2 separate regions of the Homo sapiens genome follow, and region 1 is linked to region 2. Evidence: fine-mapped expression QTL. Tissue or cell type: fibroblasts. Region 2 holds a variant in brackets; the other region holds the start of a gene. All regions are shown on one strand. Distances are between the middles of the regions.

What was found. PIP is the estimated chance that this variant, and not a neighbour inherited with it, causes the effect.
Region 1: PTPRK starts here. The variant in region 2 is fine-mapped to the expression of PTPRK in fibroblasts (GTEx, PIP 0.91).

What each region holds. Positions count from the first base shown.
Region 1 is chr6:128,515,916-128,522,897 of GRCh38, forward strand. PTPRK (protein tyrosine phosphatase receptor type K) reads right to left here and starts at 4,684. Exons shown (of 30, transcript NM_002844.4): 1 at 4,344-4,684. The coding sequence starts at 4,443. RefSeq lists enhancers at 3,858-4,451, 4,452-5,046.
Region 2 is chr6:128,651,077-128,660,116 of GRCh38, forward strand. All of the region lies in intron 1 of LOC105377998 (a long non-coding RNA gene), which reads left to right. Among named protein-coding and RNA genes, the nearest start is that of PTPRK, 130 kb to the left of the region's middle. RefSeq lists an enhancer at 4,460-5,659. The variant A/T (reference allele first, on the strand shown) is at 5,181.

The DNA of each region.
Region 1 (6,982 bases), 140 kb before region 2:
AAATATTAGTAGCCAACACACTTTTTCTATATGGAATCTTATCACATGAATTAAATATTACCTTAAAGGCCAGAAAAACCTGTAACAAACCATCATTGCTAGAAATATGAGATTTGGTGGGAATGTTGGCATTAGCTTTGGTTAGTGGATGAGTCATATTTCCAGTTCTTAAGGACATGTACAGCACTAAAATATATTTGGCAAAAACAAAAGGGCTGTGATCTTGTGTATATATATGTGGGGCTCTGTTTTTGCTAGAAAAGAGTAGGAGGGAGTGTGGGAGGGGGCAGAGTGGCAGAGGGGTTGATTTATTTTTGAAATTCACTTTTATGAGCACAAAGAGAAGAGCTGTCAGCAGCACACATGCCAATGTCCAAACAGCAGCCAGACTCTCCTCTTTCCGTCTGGGTAGGCCAGACACAAAACTACATCTCACGACCTAGGAAAATCAAGAGTCAGATGCAAGAGAACTAGAGAGAGAAAAAAAAACAGTCCTGGAAATGTCCAGCTACATATGATTGCTAGTGATTAGAACGTGGAGTTTTAATGAATTGAGGGATCGAGGGATATTTAGCCAATCAAAACCAAAAAAAACTAACAGGCAAACCTTAAAGCAAGCTGGCTCCAAAGTATCTTCCTAGCAGGTAATAAGTATAAGAGAAATTAATCTCACCTAAAGAGACAACAAGGAGTCAGATACTGCTCAGGTGCTGCTTAGATGAGTTACAGCATTCTAAGTGCACATCAACAGGGTGACATGTCAGGAACTATAGACAAAGCAGGATCTCGAGCTGTATTTCCAGGCTCCTATCATACAAGAGAGACAATAGTCCCTCTCTAGGTCATTGATAAGACTGCATCTAGAAAGCTACATATTATTCTCAACACAGAGTTGAAAACCTGAACCAACAGTTAAACAAACAGCTAAAGAAACTGACTAAAAATATTTTTTTCTGTAGTTAGAAATGCCAGGAATGTTAATAGTGACTCTTCCATGGGTCTAACTCAAGTAAGGATTTATACGAGGTAAGTTAAAAAAATTAAGGATAATCGATCATTGTGCTGACAAAATTATGGTCTGGCCAATCTAGTATGTTTATGTTTAACAATAACTATGTTAAACAATAATTAAATGAATGACTGGCTGAGTGAAAACACACACACACATGCACACACACACGTGCGCACACACACACTCACACACAAATCCTGAACAGCCTGCACTTACTGGAGAGAGAATTTGGAAGGAGTAAAAAGCTGAGACTAAGGCACTTAATGATGATTACACCCCAGATAGCTGCACAGTGCTTTACAATTTACAGTGCTAGTTCCCATAAATTACTTCATTTAATCATAAAAAACATGTGGAAAGGTCAAGTTGGGTATTATTATCCCCATTTTACAGAGGAGAAAGCTGAGTTTCCAAGTCACCTTACCTGCATCTGGTTTCGTCAGTCATCTAAGTCCTTCTACAGAAAACTTTCTTACATTATATCAAGAGATCACAGCTATACAACCCAGTGAATAAACTTTAATACTTCTTTATTCTTCTATGCCTCGGTTTCCTCAGATATGACATGGGTGTCATTTTAAGTGAGAGGTGAAACTGAAAGAATGTATGAGTTGGGATTTACAGAACGTTCTGGTTTTAAAGAGGCTCACAGTGCAGCAGTTTTACACTTTAACTGCAAAAGCTAAGAAAAAAGTCACAATAATGAAAACACTCTTACATTTTTGGTTTAAACAAAGAAAACTGAATAAGTATATGACACATCAAAGTCCCAACAATGCTCAGCCTTTCAAAATTTGCTTTTGAAGCTTACTACATTAGGAACCACATGATATCGGAAAGTAAACTGATCTTAATGAGTATGATTTGAAAGACATACTTCAGATATTTTTAAATTCTCAACATGAATTTGTCTTGGACTTTTAAAGTGGGTTTATTTAAATTTCTCAAAAGGAATAAAAGTTCACTAGTTAAAGTAAAATATAAGAAAAACCAGCAATATGGAATACACCTCCAATCTTCAATACATCTCTAATCTATGTCTGCAACAAATCTGACTGCCATAGAATTTTATGACAATAAAATATCAAATGATTTATGGTAGCCAGAAAAAAAAGGAAGTATTTACAAAACAAACTTATAATTTGTGGAGAAAGGCAAATCCACAATCTGACTTTAAACTCTGGGAATAAAAGACATTCATTTCTGGGCATACATTCCTAAAGGGCAAAATCTTGAGATGCAATCCTGTGATTACTGTACTTTTTAGGAATGCACATTATATTAATTAAATATACAACATCATGTCAAATGTTATGCTTTGTCACTAAAGAAAAGCCAGGCATATTTAGTTAAAGTACTTAGAACTAGATATCTAAGAACACAATTGTTTATTGTACGTATCTAAACTCCAGGTATCAGAAAAGCTCATTTTCACATTCAGCTGGAGGAAAAGTAGTATTTATTTGTTAATTAAAGGGTAAATAACATTTAAAAAGAGAAAAAGTTTTCTAACTGCTGAAAATATATCCATCGCTGTTGAGACATTAATAGTTGCAACTCTTGAATACATGTAAGTTTAATTATGCAACTGGTAGAGTTCAAACTTTCAATTAACAAACTACAAGCCTTTTCAAGCGTAGGCTCTCCGTGCAGTGACAAACACTGTGCAGAAATCAATACTCACTCCAACTTGCCTGCATATAATGAGTTACATCAAGCACGGTTTCAATGCTAACGGGCATTATATGTCAGAAATGCATGCAGTAATGCTTACTCCAGAAAGAATTCAATTAAACCATTGGATTATTTTTTGCATAGAGCTGTTACCCTCTGCGTACATCAATTATATACAGGGCTTTTCCTCTGCGTGCTGCCATTTCATAATCTCTGCCTGAATGTACGACACATGCTGCCACCTGAATCTGTTGTTTAACTCCCTTTACAGAGTTCTAAATGGGGCGGGGGTAGGAGAGCAATGGAAGGGAAATAAACGATTACTCCAGAAAACAACAATTTGAGTTTATTTCCAGGAAACAGGGCCTCCACAACAACGTGAGAAACTGTCAGGTACAAAGTAAGTTATTTGCGTCCTGCGGCTTCAGCCAGGAGCGTGGCTGTCGCTTTTCCCGTCTTCTCCATCACCCTCTGGCCACCACTGCGTCTCCATCTGCACCGCGAACCCCAGCAGCAGATGCGCTCGCCAGCCAAGCGAAGCTGGGTAGGTTGGCCAGAAAAGTTGTCAGGACTGGCGGGAGGTAGACAAGTGCTCGGGAGCCCGCTCCCCAGCGTCCACCTGGTGAAACTTCAGAGCCCCCAGAGGAGAGAACGAAAGAAGCAACCAACCTACACGAAGGATAACAAAACTGGAGGGGAACAGAGGGCGGGACCGGGAGAGCCAGGGTTCACGGACTTCTCTGAGCGGCTTGACCGAGAACCCCCAGGGCTACAGCGAGACGCTCCACTTGTCTCCTTTTGGGTTCTCCGGCAGAAGGCAGACATTTACAGTCCGCTTCCAGCCCCAGGCCGGATCCGGGGAGCGCGGGGCCAGAGCCCCAGGCCGGATCCGGGGAGCGCGGGGCCAGCCTGGCGGTGGTTTTGCCCGAGGAGCGGGCTCCCACGCGCGAGTCAGGCTTCCTCCACCAGGCGCCCAGACCTCGATGCCCATGAACGCTCAGAGTGGGTCCTTAGAACCGCATTTCAACACATCTTACAGGGCTCCGCCAACACACACACAGAACATGCTCCAAGCAGTGCCCGAGCGCACAGGGCAAGCCCGGGAGCAACCCAGAGCTGGGGGAGGAGAAAAGGGGACTCCGGGAGGGACGGGGAAGTAGTTAGACAATAGTCAGGGGAGGTTATTCCCGGGACAAAAAGCACCTGGCAAAGCGCGCCGAGGTCAGTCCCTTCGAATCTCCACATTTCTGACAATGGCTTCCCAGGGAATTTGTTTAAACACCCAAGTGGCAGACAGCAACAAACCCGCACCACAAGCAACAGAGTGCCGTCACGGGAGTCGTAACTACTTTTTCTTTCTCTCTTCCCCACTAGCCCGGCGCAGGCCACGCGAGACGCCGAAGCCAGCAGGTCCCCACACTCTCCGGCTAGACCGTGCCAGCCTGAGCCCCGAGCAAGCTTCGGAGAGGAACAATGGGTGCCCCGCGTCCCACCTGGCACGAACTCTGGGGACAGCCCTCCCTCTACCCTGTGTTCCCCACCCCCGGACAGAGAGAGCTCCCCACGATCCTTGTCCCCAGCCCTAGCGGGGACCTGGCTCACCCCTCGTGAGCCCAGGACTCCAGGCGTTCGTCGGGGACGCCCCCCGGCCACTCACCTGCGGAGAACTGGCCTTGGGCCGATCCCAGGAGAGGCCAAGGAGAGAGGAGCAAGAGCGCCACAAAAGCAGGCAGCGCCGCCGCCGCAGTCGTATCCATGCCGAGTTTGGGAGAAGTTTCAAGCAGCTTTGCAAAGAGCTGCCGGGGGGATCGCCGCGAAATCCACGACGGAGGAGCGGGCCGGGCCTCGCGGGGTGAGGACGGTGAGAGGACAGCCGCCCGCCCGCCCTTTTTCCTTCTTCGCGGTCGCCAAACTACCTCAGGGGCGAAAGCGTCGCCAGCGTCGCCGGCCGGCCGCGGCGGCAGCTCTCCATGCTCGGCGGAGGCTGCTCCTGTTAGTCAAGAGTTACTTTGCTCGGGGAGGGACGGGGGCGGAGCCGGGGGTGACGTCGCCCCGCGGGCTCCGGGCGCTTCTGAGGAATGCGGGCTCGGGCGCGGCGCCGCCACCGCCTCCTGCCGGAGAGACGCGCGCCAGCCCCGGCCGCGCGCCCCGCGCCGCCTTTGTTCGCAGCCTGGGCCCCGCCGCCAGCCGCTGCTCGGAGGGAGCGAGCGAGAAAGGGGAGCCGGCGCAGCTCGCTGCCCTGTTCCAGAACTCAGAATTTGAGAGGCGAGAGTTCGGTAAGCCGTGCGACCAGACGACCGAGGACGCGCGCAGAGAAACCCCCGCCGTCCGAGGAGAGGCGTCCTGGGGTTCCGTCCCAAGGTGGAGGTCCCCCCGAGCGGTTGCTGATTGAAAGGGGAGTGTGGAAGCGCCCTGAGGAAACACCCGCCTGCCTTGAAAACTCCCCGTTCCTTATTCTTGTAATAAGGAATAAGACACCCCACCCCCATCGAAAACTTGTCCCTTATTCATAGAATAAATAAAACTTGAACCAGAATAAACGATCAGTAACTTTCCAGCGTGAACAGCTGGCGTGTCTCCTTTCTGGTTTATTTGTCATTGGCCAAGTATTTGGATTTACTCTGCTTCACTGACTTTGCTTGTTGCTCTGAAACCCTCCGGCCCCTTTCCAGTTCTCACCTAAGAACTGCATCAGGGCTTATTATCCCTTCCTTGCACCTAGGTCTGGTGTGTGTGTGGTTTTGTTTTTTTTAATATCTAGTAGGTAGTTAAGACATAAGTATTTAACAAAAGGACTTTTACACTGACCATGAAAACAGCTTCTTCGGAATGATTCATCTGGCAGAAAATAATGCTATATTATGACAGTAAAATATTTCACAGTTAACTACTTCAGCAGCTTGAAGTGGTTTCGCCATATGCCACCCTGCCTTACTTCTGTGGTAAGACTGTATGGTGCATACTTTATTCATTTTTGTAAAATGTCACAAAAAATAGGTATGGTCACAATTGAATAACATAATAACTTTGATTCAGAATTTTTATGTGTTATGTACAATTGCTAAAACAATAGTCTGTTGATTGACATCTCTCAGTTTCTCAGACATCTTAGCCTTTGTAAATCAAGACAATGTGAAATTCATTTTAATATAACATTCACATAATTTACCAAGCCACATATTCTTTTAATCAAATATATGCTATTAATGACCAGACTTATGACAGAGCCTGTGGAAACAAAAATGTAATAAATATACACACAAATATATACATATATAAATACATATTATACACACATACATATCAGGCAGAAAAGACTTTTAAAAATTCTATGAGAATAGTAGCCTGCTCATTAGCACACTGACTAGCTCAACCCTTGTCAATTCAGTTCAGCATAGTTAAGTTCATCCTTCCTTAGGGTGCAATGTAGATTTTTTTTTTTTAACTCATTAACCTATACCTTTCAACACACCATCACCATTCCATTTCTTTAATTAGAGAACATTCCTAGATCCCAGGTAACAAAAAACTGAGGGACATATTTTTCTTTTTGAGGACAGCAGAACTTCCTAAAATTTAGCAGCAATTTTTCCCAGTAAAAACAAACAAAACCCTACTGTCTGTATACTAATTCATCTGTTCTACTCTTGTAAGAAATGTAAAAGAAGTTCATGACGTGGTAATTTGTTTGTTTAAACACACAAACAAAAAACTTCTTTAAATATTTTCACACAGTGCCAGGACAAAGTGCACACAATTCTTACCTTGCCCATTTTGGGGGACAGCTGATAGAAGATTCATTTCATGAAACTTTATTAATTTCTCTATCATGGAAGTAATAATAATAGCAGGTAATGTTTAGAAAGTTCTTCAAATGTTCTAGGCACTGTCTTAGAGTATACAATGTCACACTGAGACATCAAGATTTTCAGTGTTTCATTGAGTTCAGTCAACAATTCCGTGAAGACTTTGGTACAATTATTCCCATTTGACAAATAAGAAAACAAGGTTATAGATTAAGTAACTTACCCAAAGACACATACTTAAGTGAGAAGTGGGGGAGGCGATGCAAAGAGAAGAAAGGAAATTCTCAAAAGAAATCAGCAAACCAACACAGATGGTTTCTCACTAAAAATCAAAAGCATGCAATAAAACTTTTAGGTAAGTACATTATTCCTTTTGTGCATAACTAATGCGACCAGTATGGATTGAAATCACTTGAGTAGAAATCTGGTGGGTCTTCTACATAGCTAAGTGCGTGGCAAATATTAGGAATTAGTAGATTTTTGTTTGTTT
Region 2 (9,040 bases):
TACTCCTTTGCTAACCTTTTACACTAGATATACAAGTACTGAGGGGCAATCCAGAGAATCCTTTGAATCCTCTTTGCCTTTATTATGCAGCAGCAACTCTATTTCTCCTTGACAATCAATATTATTCACTCCGGTTAGTACAGCAAGCCCTTCTTTGACTGTTGCCTTAGTGGCATGAAGAATTCAAAGTGATAGTTTAAATTTCACATTCAGTAGAATCATTGTTAGGTCCACTAGTGTAAGCATTCATTTTTTAGAAATTAAGTCCTCTAAACCTGCAGAGCCAAAAGTGGTTAAGAGAAGTGATATGGTTTGGATCTTTATACCCACCCAAATCTCATCTGGAATTGTAATCCCCAGGTGTTGAGGGAGGGACCTGGTGGGAGGTGATTGGATCATGGGGATGGTTCCCCCATGCTGTTCTTATGAAAGTGAATGAGTTCCCGCAACAGCTGATGGTTATAAAAGTGTTTGGCAGTTCCCCCCACTTTCTCTGTCTCCTGTCGCCATGTAAGAGGTGCCTTACTTCCCCTTTGCCTTCTGCCATAATTGTAAGTTTCCTGAGGCCTCCCCAACCATGCAGAACTATAAGTCAATTAAACCTCTCTCCTTTGTAAATTACATTGTCTCAAGTTGTATCTTTAGAGCAGTGTGAAAATGGACTAATACAAAAAGCAAATCTTTTGTGATTGGGTCTTTAAGAATAACAGAGAGAGGAACCACTCCCATTCCCACTTCTTGGCTCCTTTATCCATGTCTTCTGGCCATGGGAAAAGATAGTGTCATGTTGTCATATTGTTTGCTAGTTCAGAACATATATGAAATCTTTCAGGACAGCACATAGCCAAACAAGGTATTATTACTTAGCCAGCACCCAAAATGAGTTTTTAATAGGGCATTCCACTGTTATGTCAGGCAGGCCAACTTGAGGTGATGTGGTACACTGTAAGACCAATAAATTCTACAGATGTGAACATTTCCCTCATTCTTTGCTGGTCAATGTGTTCTTTGGCCAGGAGCAAAGTTATATGGGCATCATTAAAGAGAATCAGGCTTTCCATTAGCCTGTGGATACTGGTACTTTACAAAGGCAGAGCAGACAGGGATGGCACATTCATATCTACTGTGTTTATTCTGGTAAAACATGCTGTTCTTTCTTCCATGATGGAGGTAGTCAACATGGCTAGCAGATCCCCTCAAGAATAGTGCCACAGAAGGAAATCAGCATCAAACTCAGCTGACAACATACTATGTTTTTAGCAACTGTGATAGCTAGAATAGTCTTATTGAAGAGAAGACCCTGCTTTTGAGCCCATGCATAGTCTCTATCACTGACACTTTGACCATTTTATTTATGAGCCCATTGGTCAAGCTCAAATGGCTGGGAAGAGGGTGGCTAATATTCACAGAAAGCGTTATCTCGACTTTATTATTCGAAAAATGCCTTGCAGTTGAAGCCTGTTTGTGAGCAATTACTTGGGGCACAAAAAATTTCAAACTCTTACCATTCCCAGAGGTTTACCATTTCTTACTCAGACCTTTGTGTTATCAATCCCTTATTTTATTTTCTTCAAAATCCGGAGAAATGAGAAAACCACTTTCCATTGTCCAGTGTAGATATGGCATCTCTTTCCAAAAAAGAAAAAAAAAATTGAATGCAGTTCTGCCCACTAGAAAGATTTCCTTTTTCCCCAATCCTTAACGGCCATTACATAGTGGGACTGAAATGCTACATGGTACAAGACTATTGTGTGGACATATCTACAAACCAGGACTGATTTGTTTTACCTCAGTCACTTGATGATGAACTCCCCCTGAGGTCCCAAATGTGGTGTGTGGTATAGTTGTCAATGCAAGCTTTTGATGCCAAAAGTTCAAATTTTGCCATCAGTTCAAATTCTACCCCATATCTCATGTTTCTACTCTGGCTGGTGTGAAGGGCAACTTATGCCAAACTTATGTGAGCTTGCTGAATTTTTCTCTATAGCACAACACACCTGTGCTTTCAGGACTAATTGAGCTCAGTTGCACATACGCCACTTCAGTTTGATAATGGAATGCTGCTATACACTCTTTAAAAAATTAAATCAATGTTATTGAGATTTAATTTACATACCAAAATGCATTCATTTTAAGTGCAGAATTTGATGAGCTTTGGCAAATGTTCTCCCTGTATGACCTTCACGAAACCGAATATATAGAATATTTCCTTCATTCAAAAATTACCCAGTGCCTTTTTGCAGTCAGTACCTGCACTTATTCCTGCCCCAAACAAACACTGATCTGATTTTTATCACTATAGATTGGTTTTGCCTATTCTGGATTTTTACATAAGTGGAATCATACAGTGTATAGTCTTTTATGCCTGGTTTTATTTCACTATATAAAGATTCTGAGATTCATCCATGCTGTTGCGTATATCAGTAGTTGGTTCTGTTTCACTGCTGAGTAGTATCCCATTGTTTGAATATATCACAATTTGTTTACCCATCACTGTGTTGGATATACTTGTACAAGTTCTTTTTTTTTAAATCTTTTTTTTTATTATTTATACTTTAAGTTTTAGGGTACATGTGCACAATGTGCAGGTTAGTTACATATGTATACATGTGCCATGCTGGTGCGCTACACCGACTAACTCGTCATCTAGCATTTGGTATATCTCCCAACGCTATCCCTCCCCTCCCCCAACCCCACAACAGTCCCCAGAGTGTGATGTTCCCCTTCCTGTGTCCATGTGTTCTCATTGTTCAATTCCCACCTGTGAGTGAGAATATGTGGTGTTTGGTTTTTTGTTCTTGCGATAGTTTACTGAGAATGATGATTTCCAATTTCATCCATGTCCCTACAAAGGACATGAACTCATCATTTTTTATGGCTGCATAGTATTCCATGGTGTATATGTGCCACATTTTCTTAATCCGGTCTATCATTGTTGGACATTTGGGTTGGTTCCAAGTCTTTGCTATTGTGAATAGTACCGCAATAAACATATGTGTGCATGTGTCTTTATAGCAGCATGATTTATAGTCCTTTGGGTATATACCCAGTAATGGGATGGGTGGGTCAAATGGTATTTCTAGTTCTAGATCCCTCAGGAATCGCCACACTGACTTCCACAATAGTTGAACTAGTTTACAGTCCCACCAACAGTGTAAAAGTGTTCCTATTTCTCCACATCCTCTCCAGCACCTGTTGTTTCCTGACTTTTTAATGATTGCCATTCTAACTGGTGTGAGATGATATCTCATTGTGGTTTTGATTTGCATTTCTCTGATGGCCAGTGATGGTGAGCATTTTTTTCATGTGTTTTTGGCTGCATAAATGTCTTCTTCTTTCTGTAAACAAGTATTACTAATTTTCTTGGGTAAATAAGAATTAAATGACTGGTTTGAATGTTCTGTTCATGTTTCGCTTTACAAGGGACTCACAAAATGTTTTCCAAATGATGGTTGATTATTCCCACCAACATTATAGTAGAGTTCTAATTGCTCCACATTTTTGCCAGTATTTTGTATTGTCAGACTTTTAACTTTAGCAATTTCTAACGGGCATTTGGTGGACTTAATTTTGATTTTTCTGTTGATTAATGATGTTTCATATGCCCATTAGCAATTTATATATCTTTCTATGTGATGCATCAGTTCAACTCTCTGTCCATTTAAAATTTGATTGTTTTTCTTATTATTTAGTTGTAAGAGGTCTTTATATATTCTGGAAACTAATCCTTTGTCAGAAATTTGTACTGTAAATGTTTACTCCCAGACTTTATCTTGCCTTTTTATTTTTGTCAAAGTGTCTTTCAAAGGGCAGTCATTTTTAATCTTGATGGAGTACAAGCATCAGTTTTTCTTTTACGTTCATGCTTTCTACATAGTATGTAAAAATAACACAAAAAACAATATAAACAGTATAGCAAGGTCACAAATATTTTCTACTATATTTTATTCTAGAAGTTTTACAGTTTTAACTTTCACACTTAGGGCTATGATTTAAGTTAATTTTTATGTATGATTTGAATTAAGCATTAAAGCTTATTTTTACTTTGCTATTTTTATCTCTGGTTTGAGTTAGGTCTTCTTCATATCATCCATGTTTCTATTTAAAATGCTTAATATTTCCTCTATTAAGCTTAACTATCCTAACTTAACTTAACTATCCTAACTTAACTTAACTATCCTAAATATTTAGGCAGCCAACATTGGGCCACATAAAACAAATTCTTAGAGACCTATAAAGAGACTTAGATAACCACACAATAATTGTGGGAGACTTAACACCTTACTGACAGTGTTAGACACATCATTAAGGCAGAAAACTAACATAGATATCTGGGACCTATTGGTTCTTGAACACCTGGATAGAGTTGTAATAACTGTTTTAATGTCTTTGTTTATATGTTCTATCATCTTCATAATTTCTGGGTCAGTTTTGATTTAATTTTTTCTCTTCGTTATGAGTCTTATTTTCCTGCTTTTTTATGTTTGTATGGCAGACTTTGTGAAATTTACCTCATTGAGTGATGGATATTTTTGTATTACTATAAATGTTGTTGAGCTTTGTTCTGGGACATAGTTAAGTTACTCGGAAACAGATGGGTTCTTTCAGGTCTTGAATTTAATCTTTGTTAGGTGGGATTAGAGCAGCTAATTTTGTCACGCTACTGAAGAAAAGCCATTATGCATATACTACTCAATGCCCCATTTTCCACTCTGACTAGTGGGTAGAGAAACTATTCTTGGCCCTGTGAAAACTCTGTAAATTTTCTCCTCTAATCCTTTTGGGTTGTTCTTTTTCCATCCTCAGAGAGTTTCCTCACAGAAATACCCTGATTAATACTCAGCCAAAGCCTTGAGGGAAGGGAGATCCTGTGAAGATTTCTGAATCTCTGTGTAACTTTCCCCTCTGGTACTCTGACCAGCAAAATGTAGCTTTCTCCAAAGAGACCTGAGCAGTTTGTCAGGGATTAGAGTATACTGGCTCCTGAGTGGTGTTAGCCAGGGAAATGAAATGTTTTGTGGTGATGTCAATCAATTTTAAGGCATCATTTCCTCATTGTCAGACATATCTCTCACATAGGCAAGGAAGCTCATGTCAGCTGACTAGACATCCTCTCTCCAGGACAATGGTGGAGATTCCCTGTGAATCTAGCCCTCTTGGTCTCCGTTTCCTTTTGTTGC[A/T]TGCCAACATACCCCTGCTTGATAAACCCTCTTTCTTTTGTGGTAAGTTTGTAGCTCTCTCAGTCCCAGTGACATTACAATCTTTGCTAATTAGTCATCTCACTTGGGGTTTCCAAAACTCTTTATTCACAAATACTGATAGTCCTATGAGTCATTCTTATATATGAGTAATTCAGTAATTTTGTGTTGATTTTTACCAGTTTTATCTCAAAGATCAATTTCATTGTAAATGTTGTGACTATAATTACTGTGAATTAAGAATTTTTGAACATATTCCTATTTAAAAAAAAATCTTTGCTAGGACCATCTATCTTATTTGTATGAGCTCCTTTATAATCTAGATTTTTGGGTATTATTTATTTGTTAATATCTTCTAGTTTGACCTTGCCCTTATTTTGGTTCTATTTCATTGTCCATAGAATTAAAATAATTTTTTTTGTGGTGGATTGGTCGGTGAGGGGAGGCAGTGGCAGACAGGGTCTTGCTCTTTTGCCCAGGGTGGAGTGCAGTGGCTCAATCATAGCTTTGTAACATCAAACTCCTGGGACTCCATACATGCACTATGACTGGCTAATTAAAAAAATTATTTTGTAGCAGTGGAATCTTGCTATGTTGCCCAGGCTGGAACAGAATTAAAATTCTAATATAGTAAAAAGTATAAAATCTTTACATTTATTGTTTCTTCTCTTTAATGTATACGAATGAATTAATATTTAATCTAGAGACCTGAAAAGCATTAAATTCCATTTTCTGGTAGATTTTTGAATATATATTTTATTTTTGTAGACATATTAGAGTGTTGTTCCGTCTCTCATATTTTTCTCCTTCCTGACTACTCCTCTCATCACTTGGCTAATCCATAGCAGCATGGGGGTGGGTCCATAATAGCCCTGTTGGCACAATCTGATTCTTCCTCTTTGATGATGGTTTATTTTAATCCAGTGACCATCTGAATCAAGATGGCCTAATTAGCATTATTTTCCTGGGACTTTAAATCTGGGCTGTAAAATTTAAATTGAAAACAAGGAGAGTCACTTGAATGAATAAGATGTAATCTTAGGACACTGTAGAAGAGATATCTTAGTTATGATATCACTGGGGTGTTCAGAGAAAGAGGTGAATAAATGAACTTAATGCTCAGTAAGAAGCAGAAGTGAGAGGAGGAAGGGAATTTCCTGGGATTTTTATGTCTTCTGCTTCCTAGTTCCAGTGTTTCTCTAAAACCAGCCTGCATTTCTGTTCTTGGTCATTAATAAAATGTACTTATATCTTTATAATAAATTCTCTCTTTCACTTACTTTAGCTAAATTTAGTTTATAGTACTTCTAATTCAGGAGTTTTAACTAATAAAGAATTCAAGTTTTTTCCCTTTTTTGTAATAAGTTTGGTGTAAGCTGTCAGATGGAGTATCCAACATTCACCCTAAGAGTAGGAACTAGATAAATTATATACCACCTTCTGGGCAGCATATGAAGGCAGTTCACAAAAGAAAGAGGCTGAGGTCAAGGCAGAAGCTAGTTTTGTATATTACTACCAGATCTTATAATTTCTAAGACAAAAGAAATTAAGCTTGAGCTAGGTTAGAAAACCGTGGGAGAGACTGGTTAAGTATCAATACCTAGCCTGGAGAAGGGGCAGACACAAAATGGAAGAGTAATAAGAGAAGACTGGAAATAACACTTAGTTAAACTAGATAATCCATACAGAATCAATCTAGAAAGAGTCTCATGATTAATAAGTTTAGTTAATCCTTTATTTTTTTCATTTAGAAGCTATATAGGCATAGGGTACTGGACAAAACCGGCATATACAGCAGAAACCAAGGCAAACACAGCCCTTCCATTATGGAGCTCACATTCTTGTGGGATGGAGAAGGAAGGTATTAAATAATTAAGTATACATTTATTCATTCATTATTACTGTAATGAGTACTGTTAAGGAGAACCATTAAAGTTTAAGCTGAAGGAACTTGACCAGGTCTGGGTGACAAGGAATGATTCTTTAAGAAAGTGAAATAAAGTATCTTTGCATATATTTTCTAGGCCAGATGTTTAAAATAGTAGACTTGTTCCAGTGGGCATGTGGATTTTTTTTTAAAATCACTTTATAATTACTTGTAACAAAAACTGGTAGAAATGCAAAAGTGTATGGATTTAAATTTCTGTGTTCTTTTTTTTATGCCTTTGACATTAATTTTCTTCTTGAAATAAGTGTTAGTCATGTGACTTAAAATGCAGAAAATGATACACATTGTCTAGCTTTGTCAGAGGGATGCAGTGAGTGCAAAGAATTATCTTGCCTAAGAAATCTAACATCCTAAATGGAAAGGCTTCAAATATCAAATAAACCCGATGCTACTTTATTTGATACCTCCTTACACCATTTCATTTAGGCTTTTCTTTTTTCTGCTTCCTAACTCACATGCTCAGACTTCTCGAAACCTTCAGGCACTGGGAAGGAAAAGAGAACAAGGAAACTAGAAGATTTTAAGCATGAGCTATGCACCAGGTCCAATAGGAGGTGCTTGGCCATTTTGGGCTGCATCTTTAGCATTAGAAATCCATTCTTTTCCTCAATGATCTCTTTATGTAATTCTCCAACAGAACAGAGCTTTCTCACCAAGGCCAGGGACGTTTGGAGTTATTGTGTGGATTTCAGGGGGTCAGTAAAAACTTGGAAAATATATATATTATATATTTCTACATTTCTATAATTTACAATCATATTTAATTGTTCTTATAAACTTTTATTTGTAAAAAATATGTTTAGCTTAATGAACAAGACACATAGAGTTAGTTTATTTTGTTATTACTTGCTATTACTGTACTATTTAGAAAAGGAGCTTGTAAATGTCAATTTCTTTTCCTATTATGCATAGTTTTAAAATGTTAAGGTTAGTAGAGTAAATAATATTGTTTAACTACTCAGTATGTTGTAGGCAGAATAATGGCTGACAAAGATATCTACCTCCTTATCTCTGAATCTGTGAAGATGTTGTCTTGGCATAACCTCATGGCAAGGGGGTGTGAGGTTGCAGGTGGAATTAAGGTTGCTGATCAATTGACCTCAGAATAAGAATATTTTCCTGTATTATTGAGATGGGTGTAATGTAAACACAAAGGCCCTTAAATATAGAAGAGGAAGGCAGAAGGACTGGAGTCAGAGTTATTCAATGTGAGAAAGACTTGCCAGTCTGTCGCTGGCTTTGAAGATGTTGATGTTAGGAGACCACAAACAGGTGTTCTCTAGCAGCAAACAAAGGCAAGAAAACATTCTCCCCTGAAGCTTTGAGGAAAGTATACAGAAAACACCTTGATTTTAGTCTAGCAGGACCTATTTTGAACTTCTTATCTCTGGAATTATAAGGTAACAAATCTGTTTTGTTTTAAGCCACTGAATTTGAAGTGGCAACAAGAAACTTACTAATACTATCAGGTAGGAACATTAGATTACTTTTATTGTCCACACATTGTGGGCCAAGTAAATAATTAAGTACTTTACACACATGTATTTTTAGTTCTATCTGACTGCAGAATATACAGTCTTAACCATTGTGCTATACAACCTCTTTTTTAAATTAATAATTCAATGAATGATTGAAATACGGAACATCAAGTCTGTGCTCATTTGGAGCACATACGAAGTACTCAGCAAATGCTTATAAATGCTTATCTGAAGAGTGGCTTTTTGGCCCATAGGAATATTCAGCAAGCCAGAGTTATTCTACCTCCCTGGATAGAGGCGTCATGGCTGGAGCAACTTTGAGCTTAGCACATTCTATCTGAGCTGTTCATTACATTCATCATTTAAGATATACTCAAGCCTTTGAGAGTTTGTTTCTTACAATTCTGAAAATATGA